Homo sapiens: one gene and its partner. The protein of the gene in region 2 purifies or fractionates together with the protein of the main gene of each other region. This does not show direct contact. Each region holds a gene or a part of one and is shown on either strand. Other genes may lie near its edges. The genes, in order: CYB5D2 and UBR3.

The links.
Region 1: the proteins of UBR3 (region 2) and CYB5D2 purify together in Homo sapiens (co-immunoprecipitation; one large-scale study listed by IntAct). This does not show direct contact.

The regions. Positions count from the first base shown.
Region 1 is NC_000017.11:4,155,384-4,158,208, reverse strand, and holds the end of CYB5D2 (neuferricin isoform 1 precursor), read right to left. Parts: exon of another isoform or gene 2,785-2,825; intron 2,263-2,784; exon of another isoform or gene 2,016-2,262; intron 1,344-2,015; coding exon 1,127-1,343; 3' UTR 512-1,126; downstream 1-511. UniProt on the Homo sapiens protein: Heme-binding protein which promotes neuronal but not astrocyte differentiation.
Region 2 is NC_000002.12:170,075,278-170,079,101, reverse strand, and holds part of UBR3 (E3 ubiquitin-protein ligase UBR3), read right to left. Parts: intron 1,635-3,824; exon of another isoform or gene 1,499-1,634; intron 1,201-1,498; exon of another isoform or gene 715-1,200; intron 1-714. UniProt on the Homo sapiens protein: E3 ubiquitin-protein ligase which is a component of the N-end rule pathway. Does not bind to proteins bearing specific N-terminal residues that are destabilizing according to the N-end rule, leading to their ubiquitination and subsequent degradation.

The DNA of each region.
Region 1 (2,825 bases), on a different chromosome or scaffold from region 2:
GCCATGAGCCAGAGCCCAAGTGTAAGGAACAGCTGTGGCCATAGGGGCAATAAGCCCGGGTCTGCCAGTGAGGGGACAGGGGCAGTGAGCACGGGTCTGCCAGTGAGGGGACAGGGGCAGTGAGCACGGGTCTGCCAGTGAAGGGGACAGGGGCAGTGAGTACGGGTCTGCCAGTGAAGGGGAGGCAGCCTCCATTTTCTAGTCTGTGAATCTGGAAAGCGATTTAGTGAAATGAATGATGGAGAAAAAGGAGACAGTGACAGAGAGGGAGGAAGCTGGTGGATGTTGAGGGTGAGACTGAGCGGCAAAGGGAGCTGGGTGGAAGCTCTGATGAGGCGATGCACAGAGGCCGTGGCGCTGTCTGTGGTAGTGCTGGTCCCACTTCTCTGTCTGAAGTAGGAACACTCCTTGCCCCCATCTACCTTCACAAGTAGTCAAGAGGTAACAGGTATGACATTGCCAGATGACGCTGGACATACAAACCACTGGACAAGCAGCAAGCCCAGCCACCTTAAGTTTGAAGCCTTGCCCAAGCTTTAATGTCATGCTAACCAGTTACCTTGTTAGAGCTGGGAAGCCACCTTTTGCTCAAAATGCAGACTTCTGCCTTTGAAAACACACCACACCTGATTTTAAGTGCTTAAAGGACAGAAAATGTCGTTGCTTTAAATTGTTGCTTTGTTCAGAGACATCTGGATTTGCTGTATCCATACAAGCAAAAGCTTTTCCAATTCCAGAATCAACCCACACTAATTTGTTATTGCCTCGTACTGTATTGGCCCAGCTGTAATCAACTCAGCAGGCTTTTGGTTGTAAATTCAAGTGGAAATTGAGTTGGTCTTATTTGTGCCCGTTGATATCTGAGGGCTGTGAGGAAGATGGCCAGTAGGTCAAAGGGAATAGTGTTGAAAAGCTGACCAGTACTGGGCAGGTGGCCGGCTGTCCCTCAGGCACCACAACGCCGAGCCACGGTAAGGGGCATGAGCCACATTTGCAGAATATAGCCAGAGTCCTTCCAGACCCTCCTGATTCGCGCCAGGAGGCATCCCAGGGCACACAAGTGTCAAGGGCCTACTCAGGTGCTTGGCAGAGCTCTCTGTGTGTTATTAACAGAAGAGGCTACGGCTTAGAGTGGAAAGGAGCATGTGATGGCTAGCGGTGGGCAGCCTGTGTACTCTGCCAAGTTTGGGTGGTCCAGGTCCCCACGATTTCTGTGTGGAGGGTTGTCCGGCATCTGGCCACTAGGGGGGCCGGTGGTTCTCACACACACGCAGCGGGGCTCCTTAGCACCTGGCTTATACAGCTTCCTGGGGACGCCAATCCAGTCTCTGCTCACACCTCCACTAAGGATAGACGGAAAGAGGACTTCTTAAATGTGAGAACTCATGAGTCTCTGGGAAGGGGAGAGCAGGAAGCAGAGAGCCAGGCCTTCTGAAAAGTAGAAGCCTACCAGAGTGTTTCCCAAGGCAGCAGGCTACAGCGCTCAGCCCCTGAGCCTTCATGCTCTCTCCTAACATCCTCCAGCTTCCCCTGCAGGGCCACCACCACCTTCCCCAGGCCAAGGGCACAGTCCATGGTTCCTTTCACTGTGCTCCCCAGCCCCTGCCCTGCCCCTTCTTAGGAGGCAGCACCACGTTCCTGCACTGGTGGCAACAGCTGTGAAAGGGCTTCCCCTGCTGGCCTGTGAGCTTCTCAGAAGCAGTGTCTGGGTGCGACTGTCCTCTTCCTTCCCCACTACAACCCAGCGCAGGTCAGGGTCTTCACCTTCTTCTCTGGGGCACTTGGCTGGGGGTGGGCAATTGGGCCCTGGCCCTTGGCCACCTGGGTCGGCCTTCTCTGGGAAGCCCTTGGCATAGAGTGTAGCTGCAAGCTGTCCTGTGCCCCACAGGTCCAGTCCTTGATGGCACTAGGCTTCAGACACGGAGGATTCAGCTGTGGCCCAACAACCTGAGCACCCTCCTATCTTGGGCAGGGGCCTTGCCCACCTCAGGGCACTGGGCTCAGTCTCTGATGGACTCAGAGGCCTTGCAAGAAAGAAACTGAGGTTCTTGGAACTGACGCCTCAGACAGCTTCCGGTGCCTGCTGTCAGAGAAACTGCCCCCAGCGAGAAAACATCCTACTTCTAGCTTACCAAGAACAAGGCTGTCACCCAAACGCCTCCCTCTTCTACCCAGCCTCCATCCCATCATTGGGGATCTGTACTCCACACCTTGTCCCTGCCTTCGGCACTTGTTCCTCTCAGTCTAATGGGACACACACAGGTGAACAGAAGACAACAAACTGAGCTGAGGCACAGGGATAGGGCCCCGCAGTTCACTAGGGTGGCCCTGGAAGGGTTTTGTGGGGAAGGCAGAGCCTGAACTACTCAGTCATGAAAGCAAGAAGAGGTTCAGGAGACACAGGGGAAGGCTGTGGGGAGGGAAAAGGAGGCAGGGCCCAAGGAAGCAAAGTCAAGCATCTGAACGCACGCAGGCCTCCTGGAGTCTCCTCCTCCTGGAGTCTCAGAGACCAGTGCTCTCTGAGGCTACCTGCATTCAGGCCTGTGTCACAGGAAGGCCCACGCCTATCTTAGCTTCTCTCCATAAAGTGAGCAGGCCAGGTTCTCACAGTCCCCTCTTTCTTGAGATGACACTGGAGAAGCTGTCTCTTCAAAGCTAGCGGCCAGGAAAGAAGGAGCTTTCCTTCCTGCTACCTTTGCCCTTGCTCCGCTCATTTAAGGCTGAGAACTCCGAATTTGCAGTGGTTTTTTTTGTTTGTTACTGTTTTTTTGTTATGTTGCCCAGGCTGGACTCCAACTCCTGAGCTCAAGCGACCTGCCTGCCTC
Region 2 (3,824 bases):
AATGTAGAGTGAGTCTATTATCTTAAGAAACTGTAAGTAATAGTCAATTTAAATGGAGATCATCTCACATTACCTACATGCAGCCATAATCCACCTAAATCAGTGGAGTAACTAAGCTAGCTTGTTCCTCATCAACAAGTTCATGGATTAAGTGTCCATGGAAGCAATGATAAGAACAGTATACAATACATCATTTGCCAATACTCAGCACCCAACCCTGGACTCCAAGGATGGCATTCTGTAATGAGTTGATTACAGTGGAACCCTTCCATTAAAGGGAAGGGATAACAATTTGTCCTCACTGAACTTGACACTTATTATAGGTTAGGCTGCATGTTATCCAGTAGCCCATAGCACATTACCTCCAATAATTTCCCTCATGAAGAGAGATGTAAGGCAACAGGTGGATGTCCATGGAATTCACTGATCTTAACATATATTCAATCATCTGAAAAAAGCTGTGGTATTTTAAATCATGAACTACAAAACTGATTTTTTCAGTGCCACAAAAATTATGAAATTCATGAAATTTACAAACTTTTAGATGGCACCAGCTGGAAGAAATCACCTACAGAATGTGTATGCTCTAAACAGCAACCAGTATATATGGGTGACCTTTTTCACAATTGGAATGCATATGTATGGGAAACAAGAGGTGGAAAGTATTTAACAGCTGTAACACCTCTCATGATTACACCTAAAATTCGGTCTTGCCTTTCCTGTTGCGGCCTGTGTGGAGTTCACTCGTGGGTCTCTGAGACCCAAAAATTGAGAGCATTTTCGCACCCCAGGGGCTGCGCCTGTGCCATGCCACAGATCAAATATATTGAATTACACTGTAAATGCCATGGATATCATTTGGATTACCATGAGAAAAAGGGAAAGAAGGAAAGTTGAGAGGCTTATGAACATTCAAAGAAGTCAAAGAAAATGATTGGTCTGAAGGCTAAGCTTTATCTTAAACAGCACCATGCTGAGAAAATACAAATGAAAAAGACCATCAAGATGCATGAAAAGAGAAACACCAGACAAAAGAAAGACTCCACAGGGAGCAGTACCTGCCTATCTGCTGGACAGAGAGGGACAACCTCAAGCTAACGTACTTCCCAGTATGATTAAGCCGAAATGAAAAGAGAAAGCAGGAAAATGGAAAGTCCCTCTGTCTAAATGTAACTTGCCCAGGGAGATACAGAAGTGTTAAGAGTTATTTGAACAGAGCCAGGTGCAGTGGCTCATGCCTGTAATCCCAGAACTTTGGGAGGCCAAGGTAGGCAGATCATTTGAGGTCAGGAGTTCAAGACCAGCCTGGGCAACATGGTGAAACCCTGTCTTTACTAAAAATACAAAAATTAGCTGGGCATAGTGGCAGGCGCCTGTAATCCCAGCTACTCAGGAGGCTGAGGCAGGAAAATCACTTGAACCCAGGAGGCTGAGGTTGCAGTAAGCCAAGATCGCTCTACTGCACTCAAGCCTGGGCAACAGAGTGAGACTCTGTCTCAAAGTTATTCCAACAGGAAAGAGAAAGACGCAGGCATAGAGGAGGATGGTTACTAAAGTCTGCTTTGTTGGAGATGGCTTTACAAGAAAACTACTTATCTATGGAAGATTCATCAGGCCAATGGGCTTGCGTTTCAAGAAAGCCCATGTAACACATCCTGAACTGAAAGCCACCTTTTGCCTAACAATACTTGGTGTAAAGAAGAGTCCCTCATTCCCAATGTATATAACTTTGGATGTTATTACCAAAGGTACTGTTACTGAGGTGAATGTGAGTTGGGCCTTGTGACACAAGGAGGCAAGGTTATTTGGGGAAAATAGGCTGTGGTTACCAACAATCCTGAAAATGATGGATGTATAAATGCAGTCTTACTGGTCTGACAGCACTTTCATAGATATTTATTGAAGACTACACACCAACTGAAAAAACTGCCATTACTGTGATGTTTCTGAATACTACCAAACAGCCTTACATGTCTGCAATCAAGAGATTTATTAAATTGTAAACATTAAAATGGAAAAAAAAATTCGGTCTTAAATTTCTGCTTCACTGCTATTCCGGACTCTTCTGCGGATTTACAAGCTATGTACTGTCTAACCTCTAGTACGGTTTATAACATCACAAGGGTGGCTTATCGCATTGCCTGGAGGGATTGACCATGACTATCAAGAAGAATAAAAATATTGCCATACAATTGGTAGAGCAATATTTTGGAACTTAAAAACCCCTACCACCACCCCTACCATAGACCAAGCTTGAAAGGCAGAAATTTAACACAGAATGATTACAGCCTTATAGAAACAAAGACAGGACCAATCACCAGAAGCTCAGCCCTTTCAGAATAAAGTTTGGTATCACATCCTTGCTCAAACAAATCCAATCATCCGTTGAGGTGTGCTGGATCACGGATGGTAAAAGAAGAAAGTCATATATATTTGACTGTATATTAGCTGCAGCTTTATGACTACTTGCAAATCTTGCTTACTGTATCATATATCTTTGCAACATTTTCATTCTCTTACTATTGAATTCAGGGTGAGCAGGTACTAATTAAAATTTTCCAGGCCATCTGGGTGTGAGTACAAATGACAGGAACAATGGACATCTCTCAGAGCTACTGGATGCAGAGAGGCCTGATGATGTAAGGACTATATGTGACATCAGGTTGCTTATTTGGGAAAGTCACAGATGCATTTGCAGTCATAAGTAAAATGGTTACATCATTTTCAACAGCAGAAGTGAAACTGTGAATGAGAAGAAGGGTGTGTATGAGCCAGGCAGGTAAGATGTGAAAGTAGTGGGCCACTAGTTTGTTTTTTAAATCCTCCTAGCATCCTTTGCTGCTTTCTTATATTAATAACATTATAAGTTCTTTTAGAAAATAACCCCTTTTCTTGCTCCGTACAGTTCTGATGGGGCTGTCCCCAACACAAGATCCTGCCCCACCACTGGGGTATATGTATTACAACAGTTAGGCCAACCAGATTCTCTCTCCCAGGAATCTGAACCTTGAGCATGCAAATTAAAGGAAGGAAAATGGTTGAGGCTTAGTTATCTGGTGGCAGCACTTCAGAGAAAACAGAGCAGAGATATTTGTGGTTTCTCTTCTTCCCAAGCGATGACAGTTAAGCTCTTCAATTCTGCAGGTTACCAAGTATGCTTCCAATGAATCCTGTTTTTTTTTTTTTTTCTGTCATAGTTTGCTTTGGTTTTCCTTATTTTAAATCAGAACTGGATTTTGTTGTTCCCAAACAAAGAATCTTAACTGATAAAAAAATTCAGAAGTAGTAATTCACAGACAGTTTTTCAAGGGTAGTACTGTTGGACTATACAGCTCCTGTCACCATTTACCCTGCTAAGTCTCGCTATACAGATTTAACATTCCTGAGAAAGAGAATCTGGTTGACCTAGGGTCAGGATCAGGGTTAGGAACACAAGAGTGGAGCAGGGACACAAGGGGGAATACAGGTCAAATGGTGGTGTACTTACATAACTGGCAAAAATTCTGCATTAGCATAAATTAATAAATTAATCAAATGTCTACTACACTGCCTCTACAATAATTATCACCTAATTATATGAAAAGATTAAATATTTTAAAATGAAAAATTCTTATTTTCCATCAGCATACATACAATAATCATTCATCTAAAATGTAGGCTTGATTTTAACCTATGGCTCATATGAAGACAAACTCTGGGTGTGCTCATCACTTTTTTCCCTGCCTTGGTTCTACAATTATACCCCTCTTACTCCATGTCATCCTGCATAGGTTTTCAGACATCAAAGTATGATGTCAAATTATTGCTATATGCTCTGTGAATAA